Linked DNA regions of Homo sapiens. The protein of the gene in region 3 purifies or fractionates together with the protein of the main gene of each other region. This does not show direct contact. Each region holds a gene or a part of one and is shown on either strand. Other genes may lie near its edges.

Region 1 (7,839 bases), on a different chromosome or scaffold from region 3:
TTCCTTGGAGAAGGCTTGCTATTTTCTCATTCTACAAAAAAGAGTTATCCTCTAATTTTTATTGCACCTGAACTTTACATAAACACACATCCCACTTTTATTTGCCAATACAGATCAATTCAATCTGTCATCATTTAAACCACTAATGGATGATGTATAAGTCAAACAAAAGGGACAAGCATGAAAGTAGACTGCTTCTCTAACACCTGAACATTTTCCTTTTAATATACAAGCATTCTTGCACACAGTTCATAAAACTGCTAGGCTGCTGATTCAGTGTTCTGTTTAACAGATGAGTTTTAACTACTTAAAAAAAAAACAAACTCTGCTTTCTACAACTATCTGATCTTCGACAAACCTGACAAAAACAAGCAATGGGGAAAGGATTTCCTATTTAATAAATTGTGCTGGGAAAACTGGCTAGCCATATGCAGTAAACAGAAACTGGACTCCTTCCTTACACCTTATGCAAAAATTAACTCAAGATGGATTAAAGACTTAAATGTAAAACCCAAAACCATAAAAAACCTAAAAGAAAACCTAGGCAATACTATTCAGGACATAGGCATGGGCAAAGTCTTCATGACTAAACACCAAAAGCAATGGCAACAAAAGCCAAAACTGACAAATGGGATCTAACCTAAGAGCTTCTCCACAGCAAAAGAAACTCTTCAGAGTGAACAGGCAACCTACAGAACGGGGTAAAATTTTTGCAATCTACCCTTCTGACAAAGGTCTAATATCCAGAATATAGAAGGAACTTAAACAAATTTACAAGAAAAAAACAACCCCATCAAAAAGTGGCCAAAGGAAATGAACAGACACTTCTCAAAAGAAGACATTTATGCAGCCAACAACATATATTAAAAAAAAAGCTCATCATCACTGGTCATTAGAGAAATGCAAATCAAAACCACAATGAGATACCATCTCACATCAGTTAGAATGGTAATTATTAAAAAGCAAGGAAACAACAGATGCTGGAGAGGCTGTGGAGGAATAGGAACGCTTTTACACTGTTGGTGGGAGTGTAAATTAGTTCAACCATTGTGGAAGACAGTGTGGCGATTCCTCAAGGATCTAGAACCAGAAATAACATTTGACCCGGTGATCCCATTACTGGGTATATACCCAAAGGACTATAAATCATTCTACTATAAAGACACATAAACGTGTATGTTTATTGCAGCACTATTTACAATAGCAAAGACTTGGAACCAACCCAAATGCCCATCACGGATAGACTGAATAAAGAAAATGTGGTACAGATACACCATGGAATACTACGTAGCCATAAAAAAGAATGAGTTCATGTCCTTTGCAGGGACATGCATAAAGTGGGAAGCCATCATTCTCAGCAAACTAACACAAGAACAGAAAACCAAACACCGCATGTTCTCACTCATAAGTGGGAGTTGACAATGAGAACACATGGACACAGGGAGGGGAACATCACACACCTCACACATCGGGACCTGTCGGGGCGGGTGGGGGGCAAGAGGAGGGAGAGCATTAGGACAAATACCTAATGTATGTGGGGCTTAAAATCTAGATGACGGGTTGATAGGTGCAGCAAACCATCATGGCACATGTATACCCATGTAACAAACCAGAACGTTCTGCACATGTATCCCAGAACTTAAAGTAAAATAAAATTAAAAAACAAAAACAAAACAAAACAAAAACTTGGCCGGGTGCAGTGGCTCACGCCTGTAATCCCAGAACTTTGGGAGGCCGAGGCAGCTGGATCACCTGAAGGTCAGAAGTTCGAGACCAGCCTGGCCAACATGGTGAAACCCCCATCTCCACTAAAAACACAAAAAATTAGCTGGGCGTGTAATCCCAGCTACTCGGGAGGCTGAGGCAGGAGAATCGCTTGAATCCGGGAGGCAGAGGTTGCAGTGAGCCGAGATGGCGCCATTGCACTCCAGCCTGGGCAACAAGAGTGAAACTTCGTTTCAAAAACAGCAACAACAACAAGAACAACAACAAGAAGAACAAAAACTCTGCTTTTAAAAGTATTTTAAGTCCAGTGTGAAAAACCTAGAAGTCACAGCAAAGGCCGCTAAGAAACTTACCATTACTCATGACCCCTCTTACTACTGACCTTGAAAATCACTTGCCCTTCTCCAAGGCCCCGCCAGCTTCATGGGTCTCTTCCTGAACCTCCTCCCTAGTTCCAGGGCTTGGCCTAAGTCTCACAGAGCAGAAAGAAACGTGGCCACCCTTCCTCACGTGAGTCCTGTGCAAACATACAGCCCCACACAGAGCTCCTAACAATGGGGCATCAGTACCCAGGCACGATCGATGATTATGAACCCAACGCGATCAGAGACTCCCACATGGTGTGTGTGACTGCGCGCACAGGCGGGAGGAAAGGGGCGAATCTGCAAAACGAGTACAACAGATAAAATTCGCAACAGACTTCTACACCCTTTCAATCAACCGTCCCAAGCGCCACGAACGCGGGTCCCGCTCCGTGGGGGGCCGCAGCCACACTGGCAGGAGGGAATCCTGGGCCTCGACCAGACGCCGGCGGCGTCAGGAGAAACGGCCCGCGCTGGGCAGGCGGCGGGCACCGCGTAGCTCATTACCACGGGGGGCCCCGGCCAAGGCCGCCCGCCTCAGGCCGAGCCTTGGGGCTGTGCTGGACCCGGGCCCTCGTTCGCACGGCGCCCGCGCCGCCGCCGTCGGGAAACCGGGTTTTCAAGCGTTCGGCCCAGCGGGCGCTGTATTTTAGGGCGTGACCCCCGCCCCGCCCTCGAGGGCGACCGGAAGAGCAGGCACCACAGCAGATGCGCCGAGTCTGCGCCCCGCACCGCGAGGAGCACCCGAGGCCGCGCTCCCGGAGCCGGGTCTGGTGACTAAGGCGCGGGTCGCGACGCAGGGGCGGCCCCGGACTCTCGACCCCACCAGCCGCCTGAATGTCCCGCCGGACGCCCGGGCCGGCTCACCTGGGAGGCGCCTCCGCCGTCCGCCCGCGCGGGGCCAGGAGCGCGGCACCACCCCCGTACCGCCGGCCGCTCTTTGTGTCTGGAGGCCGCGACGCAACACTCCTCCCGGCCTCGAGGCACCGCCCCCTCGGTGTCCCGGCGCAGTGGGCGAACAGGGGGCGGGGCGAGCGAACGGGAGAGGGGGCGGGTCGGGTCCGGGATTGCGGGGCGGGGTGGGGGCAAGGCGGCCTCCGCAAATCTCAGGGCGGCTCTGGCCAGTTTGGAGCCTGGGGTGACCCTTGGAGCTGACCTCGCTGGTCCCTGTCGGAGCCCTGCGCGCTGCGGAGCTTGGCGGTTCGCAGCTCTCGGGGTAGCATCTTCTGGAAACAAGCCCGGAGGCCGGCCAGGCAGGGGTAATACCCCAAACCCACCACTGAGGAAACCGCGACTTAAAACCTAGGTCGTCACGTTTCCACCGCATATTAAATCAATACGGGTTGAGCATCCCTAATCCAAACATCTGAAATCCGAAATGCTTCAAAATCTGAAAGTTTTTGAGCGCTGACCTGATGCTCAAAGGAAATGCACATTGGAGCACTTCTTTTTTCTTCTTTTAACTTTCTTTTCTTTTGAGAAAGGCTGTCACTTCTGCTGCCCAGCCTGGGATGCAGTGGCGCGGTCATGGCTCACTACAGCCTCGACTTTCCCGGCTATGGCGATCCTCCCGCCTCAGCGTCCCAACCCCCAGTAGCTGGGACTGCAGGCATCTGCCACCATGTCCGCTAATTTTTGTATTTTTAGCACAGAGTCTCACTGTGTTGCCCAGGCTGGTCTCGAACTCCTAGGCTCAAGGGATGGATCCACCGCCTCGGCCTCCCAAAGTGCTGGGATTACAGGCGTGAGCCACCGCGCCCGGCCTGTATTTTTTTAAGAGAGGAGGCTTCACCATGTTGCCCAGGCTGGTCTGGAATTTCTGGCCTCAAGTGATCCTCCCACCTTGGCCTCCCATAGTGCTGGGATTACTGGCATGAGCCACCGCACCTGGCCTCATTGGAGCATTTCTAATTTTGGATTTTCAGATTAGGGGTGTTCAATTGGTATAATGCAAATATTCCAAAATCTGAAATCCTAAATGCTTCTGGTGCCAAGCATCTCGGTTAAGGGATATTCAACCTGTATATATTTATCGAACACCTACTAGGGCCAGGCATTGTCCTAGGGGCTGCCAACAGCGGTGCAAAAAATCCCTGGCCCTTATAGAGTTTACACAGAAAACAATTTAAAAACGTAAATACCCGGCCGGGCATAGTGGCTCATGCCTGTCATCCCAGCACTTTGGGGGGCTGAGGCAGGCGGATCACCTGAGGTCGGGAGTTCAAGACCAGCCTGACCAACATGGAGAAACCCCGTCTCTACTAAAAATACAAAATTAGCCGGGCGTGATGGCATATGCCTGTAATCCCAGCTACTCAGGAGGCTGAGACAGGAGAATCGCTTGAATCTGGGAGGCGGAGGTTGTGGTTATCAAGCCACTGCACTCCAGCTTGGGCGACAGAGTGAGACTCCATTTCAAAAAAAGAAAAAAAAAAGTAAATACAGCCAGGCACGGTGACTCATGCCTGTAATCCCAGTAGTTTGGGAGGCCACTGTGGGCAGATTGCCTGAGGACAGGAGTTCGAGACCAGCGTGGCCAACATGGTGAAACCCAGTGTCTACTGAAACACAAAAAAATTAGCCAGTTGTGGTTAACGCGCGCCTGTAGTCCCAGCTACTCGTGAGGCTGAGGCACAAGAATTGCATGAACCCAGGAGTCGGAGGTTGCAGTGAGCTGAGATCTTGCCACTAGACTCCAGCTTGGGCGACAGAGCAAGACTCTGTCTCCAAAAAATAAAAATAAAAACATAAATATACAAAAATGTCAGAGAGTTATATCAGAATTACAAAATGAGCTACAGTACACTGTAGCATGAGAAAGGTGCATATACTTTGTAGGAACTCCACTTTAGAGGATGTGAGGATCAGAGGCAAAATGGGGTGAGAAGGAAGCAGGATGAAAGACAGGCTATGGGGGAACGGAGTTTCCAAGGGCGAGTGAAATTTCCAAGTGCCTGCAAGTGCTAAACCCCATGCAGAGCAAAAGGCAAACACAGGGAGTGGTTCAGAGACGCTCATAGTGTGTTCTAGGCTGGGAGGTTTCTCTGACCTGCTGAATGTGCCCAGATACCTTTTGCTATGCCCATGACCTGTCCCAACCAGTGTGGGGCACAATGGCAGGACACACCGTGCAAAGGTGGTCCCTGTGGGATGCGCAGCCAAGACCCCGATGACTCCAGTTTATAACCCTGGATTCCCAGGGGTGCTCAGAGCCATGGGGGCTGCCATTGTGAAGAATGTCTTCTCTTCAGTGCTCCTGATGCTCTGCACGGGCTCCCACTCACTGGCTGGAGAATGAATTTGGAGTCAGAAGATGTGAATCATGCCACTTACTAGCTGTTTGACTGTGGATCACCCAGTCATGTAACATCTGTGATCTCAGTTTCATTTGCAAAATAGAAATGTAAAAATTACCCATTGCACAGGAGTGTACTGAATTTATTTGTTATTTTATTTCTTGAGACAGGATCTCAGTCTGTTACCCAGGCTGGAGTGTGGTGGTGTGATCACAGCTCACTGCAGCCTTGATCTCCTGGGCTCAAGTGATCCTCCCACCTCAGCCTCCCAAATAGCTGCATTACAGATGCACCCCCACACCTGGCTAACTTACTAATTTTTTGTAGAGATGGGGTCTATGTTGCCCAGGCTGGTCTTGAACTCCTGGGCTAAAATGATCCTCCCACTTTGGCCCCCCAAAGTACTGAGATTGCAGGCATGAGGCACCGTGCCCAGTTGAGCATACCGAATTTAAATGAGTTAATGTAGTGGTTCTTCATCAGAGAGAAGTGGGAAGACTAGGAGTTCTCCACTTTGACTACTTAAAAATTAAAAACACCAGTGCCTGCATCCTACCTCCAGACATTCCAATTTTATTGTCGTGTAGAGAAAACTCTCCACTCTCACACCGCACAACAGTCAACACAGAAGACCTATGACTAAATGTGTGTGGGGTTTTCTCCACACACTGAGCAGCAGACACCAGCTGGGCATCCTCTAATTCAGTTCTGTCACTACCTGGAGAGAGTGTCAGATCCCACAAGTTGAGGACTCAGTCCCCAAGACTCCTCACATACATCAGTTGCAAGGCCGGGCCTCTGCAGAACTTCTGACAGATCAGCTTCAAGTTGGGGTTCCCATGACCCCCTGACCCCCTGTTTGGTTTCGATTAATTTGCTACCTGTGAGTGGCTCACAGAACTCAGAGAAACGCTTATGTTCACTGGTTTATTTTTATTTATTTATTTTTGAGACGGAGTGTTGCTCTGTCGCCCAGGCTAGAGTGCAGTGGTGCGATCCCAGCTCACTGCAACCTCCGCCTACCAGGTTCAAGTGATTGTCATGCCTCAGCCTCCCAAGAAGCTGGCACTACAGGCATGCGCCACCACACCTGGCTAGATTTTTATATTTTTAGTAGAGACAGGGTTTCGTCCTGTTGGCCAAGCTGGTCTCGAACTCCTGACCGCAGGTGATCTGCCTGCTTTGGCCTCCCAAAGTGCTGGGATTACAGGCGTGAGCCACCATGCCTGGCCCACTGGTTTATTATAATGGATATTGTAAAGGACACAGGTGAAGAGACACATAGGGCAAGGTTTGGAGGAAGGGGCAGAGCTTCCATACCTCCCTGGGCACCACCCTCCAGGAACCTCCACTGTTCACCTACCCAGAAGTTCACTGAACCCTGTCCTCTTGGGGTTTTATGAAAGCTTCATGATATCAGCATTCCTTCTCCCAGGGAATAGGGTGAGACCCTCTCATGGGAGAGTCTTAAGACCTGCAATCGACGGCAGGGCGCGGTGGCTCACTCCTGTAATCCCAGCACTTTGGGAGGCCGAGGTGGGCGGATCACAAGGTCAGGAGATCGAGACCATCCTGGCCAACATGATGAAACACCATATTTACTAAAAATACAAAAATTAGCTGGGCGTGGTGGCACACACTTATAGTCCCAGCTACTTGGGAAGCTGAGGCAGGAGAACCGCTTGAACCCGGGATGCGAAGAAGTTACAGTGAGCCAAGGTCGCACCACTGCACTCCAGCCTGGGCAACAGAATGAGACTCCATCTAAAAATAAAATAAAAAAAAAAAAGACCCACAATCAGAAAGCCAGGAGGAGGTCAGGGGCCTGCCCATGAGGCCCAACACAACAATATAACAAAGGACTGTAGCAAGGGCTATGGGAGTCATGTGCCAGTAACTGTGGATGAAAACCAATGGATATCCTGACACCACAATTGTTCAGGAAAGAACCTTTGAGTCAATCTTGACTCTCTCTCTCATACCTTACAGCGACGTCATCACATCCTGATCGCTCTTCTTTTTAAAAACATTTTCTTGGCCAGGCGCAGGAGAGGCCGAGGTGGGTGGGTCACCTGAGGTCAGGAGTTCATGACCAGCCTGACTAACTTGGTGAAACCCCATCTGTACTAAATACAAAAGAAAAACAGCCGGGCATGGTGGCGCGTGCCTGTAATCCGAGCTACTTGGGAGGCTGAGACAGGAGAATTGCTTGTACCTGGGAGGTGGAGGTTGCAGTGAGCAGAGATCGCGCCATTGCACTCCAGCCTGGGCAACAAGAGCGAAAATCTGTCTCACAAAAAAAGAAACAACAACAAAAAAAACTTTTTCTTTTGAATTAATGTTATCTTTACAGAAAACTTGGAAACGTAGAAAAGAGAGGTTCCATATTCTTCTCACTCAGGTCCTGTAAATATCAGCATCTTACATATCCCTGTTTTTTTTTTTTAAAGTTTAAA
Region 2 (7,111 bases), on a different chromosome or scaffold from region 3:
ACCACAAGGAGATACCATCATCACTAGTATCAAAAAGTAAAAAAATAAAACAAAACAAACAAACAAACAAAAAACATGCTGACAAGGTTGCAGAGAAAAAGAACACTTATTATACACTGTTGGTGGGAGTGTAAATTAGTTCAACCATTGTGGAAGACAGTGTGGCAATTCCTCAGACTTAAAAACAGAATCCCATTCAACCCAGCAATCCCATTACTGATTATATACCCAAAGGAATATAAATCATTCTATCATAAAGACACATACACGTGTAAGTGCATTGCAGCAATATTCACAATAGCAAAGACATGGAATCAACCTAAATGCCCATCAGTGGTAGTCTGGATAAAGAAAATATGGTACATATACACCATGAAATACTATGCAGCCATAAAAAGAATGAGATTATGTCCTTTGCAGGAACATGAATGGAGCTGGAGGCCACTATCCTAAGTGAATTAATGCAGAAACAGAAAACCAAATACTGGATGTTCTCACTTATAAGTGGGAGCTAAATGATGAGAACTTATGGACACATAGAGGGAAACAACACACACTGGAGGGTGAGAGGAGGGAAAGGATCAGGAAAAATAACTAATGGGTACTAGGCTTAATACCTGGCTATTGAAATAATCTGTACAACAAACTATGACAGAAATTTACCTATATAACAAACCTGCATACATACCCCTGAACTTAAAAGTTAAATTAAGGCTGGGCGCGGTGGCTCACGCCTGTAATCCCAACACTTTGGGAGGCCGAGGCGGGTGGATCATGAGGTCAGGAGATCAAGACCATCCTGGCTAACATGGTGAAACCCCGTCTCTACTAAAAATGCAAAAAATTAGCTGGGTGTGGTGGCAGGCGCCTGTAGTCCCAGCTACTCCGGAGGCTGAGGCAGGAGAATGGCGTGAACCTGGGAGGCAGAGCTTGCAGTGAGCCGAGATTGCACTACTGCACTCTAGCCTGGGCGATGGGGCGAGACTCTGTCTCAAAAAAAAAAAAAAGAAAAGAAAAAATCTCTCAATAATTTGTTTTCATGTATAAAACTTTGTTGCAGGATATCTGACAAAAATCGGTGAACTGTATGGTATGTGAATTTTATCTTAGTAAAGCTGTTTATAAAAATCAGAATAGTGGCTATTTGATAAAAAGGGTAGAAGAGAACTTTCTGGACATGCTGGGAAAGTTCTATATCTTGATCTAGGTAATGCCAACATAAATATATGTACATGTTAGTCTAAATAAATCAAGCCATCCATTTATAATTTGTGTACTTACTCTTATGACAATTATACCTCAATAAAATATGTTACTGTAAAAAAATTAAAAGGTAATTTCACATTTCTTTCCAAAGTGCTTTTAGCAATTTACATTCACAAGAATACTGTATTAAAATTCCCACGCTCAACATCTCCCAACTGTAATACCGATAATCAGATGGGCTAAACATGGAACTTTGCTGTGGTTTTAATTATCAGTCTCTTATTGCTAATGAGGATGGTCATATTTTTCTTTATTTCTGATATTCATGGTTCAGAAAAATGGTCTTTTTATACCATTTGCCCAATGTTTCACTGATTTGACATTTTCTTATCTCTTTCTTATCACATACATGTGTTATAATAATCTAGAATGGAGTCTTGTTCTTTCTCTTGTGATGGTATATTCCCATAATCTGGAAATTTATGGCATAGTCAAAACTAAAGATATTTAACCACAGAATTTATGGAGTGTTTTTCTCTTTTAAAATAAATGCTTTTCTGACACAAATTTTTAAGTTTTTATCCTATGTTGTATTCAATACTTAGAAGTGTGTGTGTGTGTGTGTGTGTGTGTGTGTGTGCACGTGTGTATTATGAGGTAGGAATCCAGTTTTATTTCAACATTTTTCTTTATTTTTCCATAGAGGTAATCTATTTTGTTTTTACCACTCAAGGATGCATAATTTCTGGATTCTTTTTTTCATTAATAATTTTTTTCTGGCCGGGTGTGGTGGCTCACGCCTGTAATCCCAGCACTTTGGGAGGCCGAGGCAGGCGGATCACCTGAGGTCAGGAGTTTGAGACCAGCCTGGCCAACATGGTGAAACCCCATCTCTACTAAAAATACAAAAATTAGCTGGGCATTGTGGTACGTGCCTGTAATCCCAGTTATCTGGGAGGCTGAGATGGGAAAATCGCTGGAACCCGGGAGGCCGAGGCGGCAGTGAGCTGAGATCGCACCACTGTACTCCAGTCTGGGTGACAGAGCAAGACTCCGTCTCAAAAATAAAGAAAAAATAATAATAATAATATTTTTTTCTACTCTTTTACCACTGATACACTGTCTTACTATTTATTGTTTTATAATGAACCTTAATGTCTACAAGGGCAAAAAGAATCGTTATTTAGATTCCTAGTAAACTAAAAGGTAAAATCGTGATATTTTTTAATAGCGAATATGTAAAGATGAGGATTTTTATCTTTAATTTCCTCAGATGCTTTGTATTGTGTCAAATTAGTCAAAAACAAGTTGAAACATGCATATTTTTATTTTCCAAATTAATGTATTCAGGCAAAAATTATTTGCCCTTAATAGCATATTATTTTACATTTCTGTTCACCATTCATCCAAACAATAATGACAATAGAAGTCCACAGGCAGCACCACAACACATTATGAATTTACTCTGACTTTCAATTTTGCATATTTTCAGTTTGTTTTTTTAACTTGACTCTTGATAATTGCGAATATGAAGTCAGAGAGGTTTGGAAAGACGATGCTTTCCATTGTGTTTTATTCTATTTTGAGGAGTCTTTGATATCTAAGAATGGGCATCCTCTTTGACTACATAGCTGCTTTCTAGCCATTAATTGGGTATCATGTTCTTAGTGGAATGAGAAAAACCTGGAAGAACCCTCGCCCAGATTTAAATAGGAGTGAATGCTTGCATTGTTTGAACACATTCACATATTTGAACATCTTTGAATGAGGGGGTTATCTCTAGTTATCTATTAATGATTTGTATTTACTAAATTTTATAGTTCTTTCTTGTTCTTCAACTGTTTTGAGTATTGAGAGTAAACTATGGAAATATGAATATAGTGTTAAGTTTTAAAAATGGTCCCATAAAACATTGAAATCTAGATAATTAAGACTTACCTCTATTTCTTTTCTTAATTTTTCATGTGTCTTTTTTTCTTCCTCAAGAAAACAAGTTTTTTCAATGATAGATTCTTTTACAGTTATAATTTTATCCTTTAAGTTTGTAATGTCTTCCTGTATGTTGACAACATTTGAAATATAGAAGTCAAAAAAGGATGATCAATATAAATCCAATTTTTCAGTGTTTCTATAATTTAAGAAAACTAGCCAAATCAAAATTTAGTTTTGATAAATAGCATTAGAATATTACTTCTATACGTATACAAAAATAAAGAACTGTTACTCAAAGAAACCTTACATTTGACACAGAACTAAAAACCAAATGAAAATAAGACAAAAAGGAAAGTGGTAGTTATGGTGGCAACTGCCGAACAACAGTGTAAAAGACACTTTTTAATTCTCTAGCAAGAAATGATCAATATTTTAAGTTTGTGTCTTCTATCGTCTTCAAAGAACAGTAAGAGAAATAGTAAGATGCTTAAGGTTCAGTTATTAATTTATATTGCTTGCATAACACCATTAAGTGTACTAAATTGATTTGAATTGGTCTGGATCCATTGGCATAGAAGCTAAGTCTTTAACATTTTTGTGAATTACATTTTCTACAACAAATGGATTAATTGTTCACTGTGATTTTATTTGACCATGTAGTTTTATAAATCTACAGGGGATTTGTGGATGTTTCCTTTATGCATTTGAGCATCTAGGGTCGTTGTTATATAACACATGTACTTATTCCAAGTTTTTTTCAATTATGAAAATAGTTTCTGAAGGTAATAGGACAGCTATGGGCATTTTATTAACTTCACAATAAATTTATCATTTAATGTATGTACTTGCAAAAAAGGAGTAATAGAAAAAATAGTTTTACTAAGTAATTTTGCACACCTGTACTTGTGTTATTCGGTTCCCTCCTGGATTTTGAAGATCTTGCATAAGTTCTTCTTTCATTGTCTTTAATTTTTTAACAAAATCTCGCTTTTCATGGAGTTCAGTCATAAATGACCATTTGCTCTCTACTTCCCCCAAACTATTTTTATGTGCTTTTATTTTTGCATAATATGCATTATATTTTATCATGTGTTCCTCAAAATCTTCTTGGGCTGTTTCTATGTCAAATTTAAGCTTTACATTTTCTGAATGTAAGGATTTGATTTGAGTTTCCAGGCTATCACAATGAAGTTTGGTATTCTCTATGGCAGAATCTTGTTGATAAATTTGTCTTTCTGTTTCTTTAGTTTCTGCAGAGATAGCTGCTATTTCTTTTTCAAGCTCATGAAGTTCATTCTGTAATACATTTTAACATTATCATTATTAATTCAAAATATTAAACATGAGAGGAAAATCAATGTTTTAATCCATAATGAATATAGGAAAAATCACTTATAAGAATATATTTATCAGATATTTAAAAATTAATGAATACAAGGAAACATGCAATAAACACAATTATTTTATAATTTCAGAAGGACCTCAGTTATATATTTTTTAATGTTCATCTAATTCTAAATATTAAAATCTCATTGTTTTATCTTGACATTTTATATATGTAAGATACTTTATAATAATTTTACTAATTTATTTATAGGCATCAGAAGTATACACTCAGGGAAGACAATATGATAAAAAATGATAAAGCCCTGAGTTAAGAATCAAAAGATCTAGGTCCAGCACACTTATTGCTATTTACTACTTCGTATGATCATGCATAACAAACTTAATTACCCCATTCAAACTACACTTTCTCCATTTGTAAAATGAGTATAAAGATATTTACTTTGCCTCCCTGGGGCATTTTGCATTGCTAACTGCTGCCTTCTTTTTAAAGCCTAGTTTTCACACCACCAGTCTTCTGGTTCTCCTTAGAAATTTCTGAGAATTCCTTCTCAATCTCAACAGTTCCTTCAAATATAGGTCTTCTGCAGATTTCAGTCATCATAATTTCCTCTTCTCACTCTCTATATATGCTCCTTGGGTAATTTCACCCAAATTTACATCTTCAGCTACATATCTGCCGATGATTCACAGAATATAAGTGGCTGCTGAGTTCTACACCCAGCTGCCAATGGCCACCTCTAATTCACTATATCCAAAAATTGAATGAATCCTTTCTACAACCTCAGCCTATTACTCCTTGTATCAATTATCTGTTGCCAGAATCACAAAACCTCAGTAGCATACAACAATACATAAGTATATATTGCTGACATGACTAGGAGCAGCTGAGGTTGGCTAGGTAGTTCATAAGCCTGGGAGAAGCAAGGGTTGGCTAGGTGGTTCTGCTGATCTTGATTGAATCTGCCCAAGTGTCTGGGGATTGGCTGATTGTAAGATGATTTAAATTGGCTTTAACTGGGCTGACAGGGGTGTCTTGGCTTTGCTTTATGTGTATCTTCTCCTCCAATGGGCCAACCCAGGCATGTCTTATGATAATAATAGATGCAGAAGAGTGAAATTCAGTTATGGAAGAGTTTTTTAAAGCTTTTGTTTCAGTCACAACTGATAACACCCCAGCTAGTTACATAATCAAACCCAGAGTCAAGGGGTGGAAGTGTGTCCATCCATTATGGGAAAGCATTGTAATGTATGGCAAAGGGTACGGATAGACTAACGGATGAAAAACTGGGACCAAAAATGCAAATGATCACACTCCTATGTTCCCCAACTTAGTTAATGTTACCACCTTAGCTCTTCCCTTCTTTTAAATAACTGTCTAAATGTTTCTCAAATTCTGTAGATCTTCCCACCAAAATAACTCTGTAGGCCATCCTCCATAGTCCTCTTCTTATCTACTATGGTCATTCTTTTTAAGTAAATTTGTAATGTTAGAGGGCATTGTTTTAAAAAATGCAAACTTCCTTGTATCCTTTTCCTGGCAGAGAAAAAGGAGGTAAGTTCACTGAAAAATACAATATGGCAATGAACCTCAATTTTTATCATCAGCTCTGATGTTTCAAATGCTCACTTGACATTTTTATATGTATGTTTACCAGACATCTCAACTATACATATTCAGAAAAAAAGTTTAATTTACACACCAAACATATTCCTCCCCCAGACTTTCTGATTTCAATAAACTGTACCACTTTCCACCTGGATACTCAAAAGCCTAGAAATCATTCTTGATTCTTCCCTTTCCCTTACCCCCACAACCTATTTCTCATCAAATCCTGATGGTTGGGCCTCCAAAATAAAATCCCCAATGCACTTCTGACCAGTCTTTGTAGTGTGACCTAATGTCTAACTCATCTCCCTATTTCCGTTCCTCCCCACTCCCCCAACTAGTCTGTGTATATCAGGCAGAAGAATCTTTTCAAAACATAAATCATATCATGTTATTTCCCTGCTCAACATCCTCCAGTGGTTTCCCATTGCATTAATAAAAAATTTCAAATTCCTGAAAGTGTTTTATAAGCCATATATGCCCTAGTGCCTATCTACTTTGCTATGCTTCTCATCTACTACTCTCCCTTTTTCCAGTCTCCTTTGTGTTGATTAAATATGTATAGTTCCTTCCGACCTAACGGCTTTTTAAATTATTGTTTGGTCTACTTTAAAATTCTCTACCCCTGGCTATTATCTGTTGGGTCTTTGTCTTTCACAATTCAGTATTATTATTATGTCTCAGAAGAGTCTTCCCTAAATCAAAATATAAATGAACCAACCACTATTCCACTCCTCCTCTAGTTACTCTCTACACATTACCCCATTGTATTTCCTTTGTAATACATCAATCTTTGAATTATCTTTATTTTGTTAATTTATTGCTTGCTTCCCCTGACTAGAAAGTAAGCTCTGTGGCTACAGGAACCATGTCTGTCTTCATTACCACCATCTTCCCACTGCTTAAAACAGTAACTGACACAAAGTAGGTGCTCAATAAATAAATAAATTCATTCAATAAATGAGTGAATGACTGATGCACAACCAATGGTCAGGAAAGGGACATATGCCCTGCTGGTTA
Region 3 (7,111 bases):
AAAAAATAATAAATCAAAGATAATATCTGGCAGTGGGAAAAAAACACTGAGTAGCAGAAAATAGTATAAATATAAAAATAGCTATGAAGTTAAAAATGGAGATTATTCAAAACCCAATGAAACTGGCTGACTAATCATAGTTATGGGCTAAAAGCTCAGTGGGCAAGGTCAGAATGAAGGAAGAAAGAGGAGAAAAGTCAAATGCCAGAAAATAACAGATGTGGTGGCACGAATTAGAAGTGGGAATGGAAGAGCAAACACTGACAGGTAAGAAGACAAATGGAAGCTAAACTGCTCTGGGAAGTCAACAGCTCTAATATCTGCTTAAAATTTGAACAACTTCTTTCTCCACCACCACCACCACCAAGAAGAGTTGCCACAAACCGTTTCATAGGTTAATTCTTTTGAACCCTGAAGGAATAGATAATTATAGTACGTACATTTTTCCAAGCAGAGAAAGAAAAAAGCGTCAGTATGCTTTTTGTGAAATCAACATAATACACACACAAAGATGAATCTCACATATACTGATGCAAAAATCTTAAAGAAGATGTTATCAAATAAAATTCAGTAATACATTAGAAGACTAAGAGTGCACAGCTAAGTAAGGTTAGTGATAGGATATATATAAATAAAATTTATTACATCAATAGATTACAGTTGGAAATATGAATGTCTCAAAAAGGAGATGTAGTGGGAGGGAGGGAAGAATGGTGGAGGATGCAACTAAACATAGAAAACCCAGTGAAATCAAGTTGTATCAGCTTCAACTAATGACAATTTTGTCTTTGTTTTCCAATATTTACTGTGTTTCTAATTTTACTGGCTGATACTTTTAGAACACTGTTATATAATAGTGATGATATTGGATACCCTCCCTTATTACTAACTTTTATGGAAATACTTCTAGAGTTTCATTGTTAATCATGATGTCAGAGTGAAGCTCTCCCTCTCCTTCTTCCTCTCCTTTCACCTCTCCTCCACCATTTTTCCCTCCTTCCCTCTACATCGCCTTTTTAAAAACAATCATATGCTTTTCCAACTGTAATCTATTAATGTAATGAATTTTATTAATAGATATCCCATTTCTGCTCTTCCTTCTGCTCAACTCCTTACAATTTGGCTTTTGCCCTGCTTATTACCTCAATCTGCTCCCTTTCCTGAAGGCCACCAATGACCTCTGATTGCTGCTTCTTAGTCCTTATTCTAGTTGACAGCTCAGCAGCAATCAACATGGGTTGATCATGCCTTCAAATACTCTCTCCCTAGGTGATGTCAACTCCACTCAGTAACGTGTTCTGCCCATCTTTCATGAAGCCGTCTTAGACTCTTCACTCAAGTTTTTGAAAATCCTGAGGTTCTGCAGGGTACTGTCCATTTTCTTTCAATACATTCTCTCTAGGTGAGTCCCAAAATTTAATAGCTCTAGCCCAGAACTATCTCTGAGCTCTTGACTTAAATTACAACTATCTAATTGACATCTACACTCAAATCTCTCACTTGGCTAATCAGTATCATTCTTCAGACCTCACTCTGAAGGCAACTTGTTCAGGGAAATCTTCCTTAACTTCCTAGTCCAGTTTAAGTCTACTTATATATGTTCTCATATCATCTTGTGCTTCTCCTTTTGAAGCAGTCATCAATTTATTATTATCTCATTCATACTGTTGGGGCCAGCACATTAATCAAAATAAAGTCCCTGCTATTAAAAAGATTAAAGTTTTATATGAAAATGTTATGAAATACCTAGAAACAGACTTTCTGAAAGAATAAAAAATCAACAATATCAGGTACTCTGAAAACAAATCTTTTAAAATAAATCCATATTTCTAGAAAAAGAGAACTAAACTAGAGGGCTCCAATAGCATCTGTGATATCAGGGACTTTTTTTTTTCTTAATTTTAAAGAGGAATAATTTACATAAAGTATATTCATTTAGAGCATACAATTTCATGACTTTTGACAGTCACTGACACCTATGAAACACCCACAGGCAAGAAACTGTACATTTCTATCAACCCAAAAGATTATTTGTGACCCTTCACAGTTCATTCATTTTGACCCAGGCAACCATTGATCTGCTTGCCATGGCTTTACGTTAGTTTGCATGTGTCTAGCTTCTTTTAATCATCATATTATTTTGAAATAGGTCCATGTAGTGCATCAGTAGAATTAGTCATTTTTATTGCCAAGTATTCCGTTGCATAGATATGTCAATTTTGTTTAACCATTTACTTCCTTTTTTTTTTTTTTTTTTTTGAGACGAAGTCTCACTCTGTCACCCAGGCTGGAGTGCAATGGCGCGATCTTGGCTCACTGCAACCTCCGCCTCCTGGGTTCAAGCCATTCTTCTGCCTCAGCCTCCTGAGTAGCTGGGATTACAGGTGCCCGACACCACGCCCGGCTAATTTTTTGGTTTTAGTAGAGACGGGGTTTCACTATGTTGGCCAGGCTGGTCTTGAACTCCTGACCTTGTGATCCGCCCACCTCGGCCTCCGAAACCATTCACTTCTTAACGGACATTTAAGTTATGTTCAATTTTTGACTACTGTGAATAAAACTGCCAAAACGTTAGGATATAGGTTTCATCTCTCTGGAGTATCTCATTGTGGAGTGGCTGGGCTGTATGGTAAATGTACATTTAGCTTGTTAAGAAACTGCAAAACAATTTTCTAAAGTGATTGTACCATTAATTTTACATTCCCATCACTACCATATGAGTATCAGATGCTCCACATTCTCAGCAACGTTTGGTATGGTCAGTCTTTTTAACTTTAATTAAGTGGATATACAGTGATATATCACTGCCGTTTTAATTTGTATTTTCCAAATGACTAAAGATATTGAGTATCTTTTCACATGTTCATTGGCCATTAGTACTCTATTGTGAAGTTCAACTTTTTTCCCTTTTATAATTGGCTTTTTGCCTTTCTTATTTTTTAAGTTGTTAGAGTTCATTATGTTCTGGATAACAGTACATTGGAAGATATATTTAATGCAAATATTCTCTCCAAGACTGTTGTCTGTCTTCTAATTTTCTTAAGTGTCTTTTCAATTTATTTTAAATCTGTTTTTCTTTTTACGGTTCATGATTCTTGTGTCCCATCTAAGAAATCATTGCCTATTCCAAGATGGAAAAGATTTTCTCCTATGTTTTCTTCTAGGAAATTCATAATTTTAGCTTTTGTGTCTAGGTGTATGCCTATTTTGAGTTAATTTATAATACGGTGTGAAGAGTTAAGGATCATTGTTTTGCAATGGATGTCCAATTCTTCTAGCACCACTTATTGAAAATACTTTCCTTTTCCCACTGAACTGCCTTTCCATCTTTGTTGAAAACCAGTTGACAATATGCATTTCTATTTCTGGACTCTTCTGTTCCAGCTATTTATATGCCTATTTTTAAGGCAGTGACACATTATCTTGATTACTATAGAATTTGAGTAAATTTTGAAATCACAGAATATAAATCCTTAAATTTTATTCTTTTTAAAATTGTTTTGATTTTGTAAGTCATTTGTATTTCCATATACAAAGGCATTGTTCTCATAGAAGATGATAGCTCCATGTCCCTGAAGACCTTCCAGTGGGACAAGATGTAGAGGTGGAAGACAGTGATATTGTGATACTGACTCTGTGTAAGCCTAATGTGCATGTTTGTGTTTTAGGTTTTTTTTTTTTTTTTTAGTTTCAAGTAAAAAAATAATTTCTAAGATAGAAGAAAGTTGTAGAATAAGGATACAAAGAAAAAAATTTTTTGTATATTCATACAACATGTGTTTTAAACTAAGTGTTATTAGAAGAGTCAAAAATAATAAAAGGTTTATAAAGTAAAAAAGTTACAGTAAGCTGAAGTTAATGTTAATTTACTTTGGAAGAAAAATTCTTTTTACAAACTTAGTGTAGCCTAAATACACAGTGTTTATAAAGTTTACAGTAGCATACAGTAATGTTCTAGGCCTCCACATTCACACACCATTCACTCACTGACTCGCCCAGAGCAACTTCCAGCTCTACAAGCTCCATTCATGGTAAATACCCTATAAAGGTGCCCTATAGAGATTTTTAAAATCATTTATACTGTATTTTTGCTGTACCTTTTCTAGATTTATATATGTTTAGGTAGACAAATACTTGCCATTGTGTTCCAACTGCCTACAGTCTTCAGTATAGTAACATTGAGTACAGGCTTACAGCCTAGGAGCAATAGGCTATACCATATAGCCCAGGTGTGTAATAGGTTATCCCATCCAGGTTTGTGTAAGTACAATCTATGATGTTCACACGATGATACTGACTAAGAATGCATTTCTCAGAACATATCCCCATTATTAAAGTGATGCATGATTGCAAATGGATTCAAGTGTATCATTTTATTATTAGTTTTCTGTCTGTTCTGTGTTTTTGTTCCCCTCTTTCCCTTTCCCACTTTCTTTCAGATTAAATGTGTATTTTAATTTCTATATTGTCCTTTTAGCTATTTGTTTTTGGATTATTTCCTTAATGGTTGTTCTGGAATTAAAATAAACAACTTTGGTAGCCTTACTACAAGATGCCCTCCCTGTCTTCATTCTCACCACTAAGAAATGTCTTGAGGGTAAAGAAAAAAATCCAATATTCTTAAGAAATCATAAAGACTAAATCTAGCATGTGAATTAAAAAGCCTTTCCTAAAACCTCAGAAAAATCCAAGGTGATGCCTCAGAGAACCATTCAGTCAAAGTATAGGGCCAAGAAGTTTAAGAATATTGTCTCAGTAGTTTTAGCAAAAGGCCAAAGTATAAAAGGGCTTATCTCAAAGAAATTTGTAGTTGTGGCTTTTCCCTAATGAAGTGAGCCTCAGTAGGATTCACGTGAGACCCACAAAGTTTTTAAGAGCACTGTATTTACATGAACACAGTGAGCTTGGACTGAAATGGACAGAGGCAGTAAAAAAAAGGAATGATACGCAACTTTTACAGAATGGAAGCAGGCACAGGACAATTGCAAATGCAAGCTATCTTTTATATATATTTTTTTAAAAAAAAAAAAAAAAACGAATGATCAGAGAAGGGAAATAGGAGCACAGAGAGTAGTGTCAAGAGTCATGGGGAATCATTCCCAGGAGGGAGGATGACTGAGTCCTAATCAAGGAATGTCCAATACTTGCCTGGCTCAATTTCAGAATTGCTATATAACAATGACTCCAGTTTTTCTGCTTTCTGAACAGAAGTATCACTAGTGATTATCCTATGCCTATCTCACCATAGTATATTGGGAATATGAAGGGCAACTGTTTCTTTGGCTGAGGTCTTCAGATCAAGAGGACATGTACTCAAGGAGTTACATAAGCAACTACATCCAAGGAGCCTCATGTGCAATTGAACCTAGTTTAGATGAGGAAATACTGGACATTAAGCTAATGCTATAATAGAATCTCTGAAGTTTGAAAACTGATTTATCCTTGACTTTCCCTACTTGGCAACTGCTTTAATTCAGGATCTTATCAAAGATTGCAATAACCCACATACTAGTTGTATTAGTCCATTCTTGCACTACTATAAAGAACTACCCGAGACTGGGTAATTTATTAAAAAAGAAGAAGAAGAAGAAGAGAGATTTACTTAGCTCATGGTTCTGGAAGCTATAGAGGGAGCATGGCTGGGGAGGCCTCAGAAAACTTAAAATCGTGGTGGAAGGCAGAGGGGAAGCAGGAACATCTTACATGGCCAGAGCAGGAAGAACAGAGAGAAGCAGGAGGTGCTACATACTTTTAAACAACCAAATCTCATGATAACTCACTCAATGTCATGAGAATAGCACCAAAGGGGAAACCTGCCCCCATGAGCCAATCACCTCCCACCAGGCCCAACCTCCAACATTAAGGATTACAATTTGACACGACATTTGCATGGGGACACAGACCCAAACCTTCACTAGTGTTCCTGAAATAAAACTCTCTCCACTCCACTGTGTAAACTTATTCCTAGCTTCTCCTGGATTGTTAGAGGATTAGGGCACCAATCCTAACCCCTACTGTAGCTTCCATCACAATGTGCTGTAAATGTCTGCTTACATATTTTCTTCCTCCACTTTTTATTGTTATATCTTCAAGACCTAGAACAGTGCCTATCACATAACAGATATTTATTTATTAAATGAATGACCAAATGTTCATGTCACATGTACTTCTAAATCATTTGAAACTGCTCACAATAGAAGATACATCTTCATTAAATCAATAAAAGTAAAAGAATCGCTATGCAATAACCCAATTTGCTCATGAAAAAGTTAAATTTTTGGAAAATTCATTCATTCAAAATAAGTTATTTTCATTAATGCAAGACAAATGAGGTGATATTTATTCATACCACTTTTCAACATGTTTGCTTGGTTTTCTAAGTCAGATATTTCAATCTTGACATTTTCTTTCATCAAAAGCTCTCTTTTCTTTGTTATTTCATAATCATTATTAAAGTCTGTAATTTCCTTAATAAATTTGTCTTCCTCCTCTATCATTTGTTTCTTTATAGCCTCCTGAAAAACATAAATAAAAGATCAAATATAGGTGTTAGTTGCAATAATATTTTTCCTTAATTATTTAAAATATAATAATTTGGAATTATTAACAATGAAAGTATATAGTTACACTTCCTGGTTTTATGGCAAAAATGTTTTTTTCTCATAGTAATATTAATAAAAAACTGAAGCTATTATATAGTAACAACTATCTTCAGATGAAAGATTTAATCTTAAAGTTTTGGGAGAATTATTGAGGTAGATATTCTACCACTCATCATTATATCTGTTTATTTGTGTATTAAAATTCAGAATCATATTACATTTTATAATTATAATATAAAACTGGAGAGTAAAGTAATTAAATGGCCAAACTGAAAAACTAAAATTTACACTTAAAGGGATTACTGCCTTACAGGAAAACAAACAAACAAACAAGGATAGCCAAGAAAACCTTTTAAAATGTGGATGATGAAATCAAAATTATATATTCACTTCAAAATCAGTTTTAAATAATAGTTTACATTTTATGAAGTATCAACATGGCAGAGAAATAAGAATTTCCAAAAACTGTGGACAATGCAAAAACCTAAACTCTTTGACAATGCTAGAAT

What was found.
Region 1: the proteins of CCDC172 (region 3) and NINL purify together in Homo sapiens (affinity purification with mass spectrometry; 2 studies listed by BioGRID and IntAct, with this or other methods). This does not show direct contact.
Region 2: the proteins of CCDC172 (region 3) and CCDC122 purify together in Homo sapiens (affinity purification with mass spectrometry; 2 studies listed by BioGRID and IntAct, with this or other methods). This does not show direct contact.

What each region holds. Positions count from the first base shown.
Region 1 is NC_000020.11:25,582,501-25,590,339, forward strand, and holds the start of NINL (ninein-like protein), read right to left. Parts: upstream 3,032-7,839; 5' UTR 2,955-3,031; exon of another isoform or gene 2,151-2,954; coding exon of another isoform or gene 2,108-2,150; exon of another isoform or gene 2,089-2,107; coding exon of another isoform or gene 2,079-2,088; intron 1-2,078. UniProt on the Homo sapiens protein: Involved in the microtubule organization in interphase cells. Overexpression induces the fragmentation of the Golgi, and causes lysosomes to disperse toward the cell periphery; it also interferes with mitotic spindle assembly.
Region 2 is NC_000013.11:43,855,637-43,862,747, forward strand, and holds part of CCDC122 (coiled-coil domain-containing protein 122), read right to left. Parts: intron 4,435-7,111; coding exon 4,036-4,434; intron 3,262-4,035; coding exon 3,145-3,261; coding exon of another isoform or gene 3,097-3,144; exon of another isoform or gene 2,515-3,096; intron 1-2,514.
Region 3 is NC_000010.11:116,341,440-116,348,550, reverse strand, and holds part of CCDC172 (coiled-coil domain-containing protein 172), read right to left. Parts: intron 6,516-7,111; coding exon 6,350-6,515; intron 1-6,349.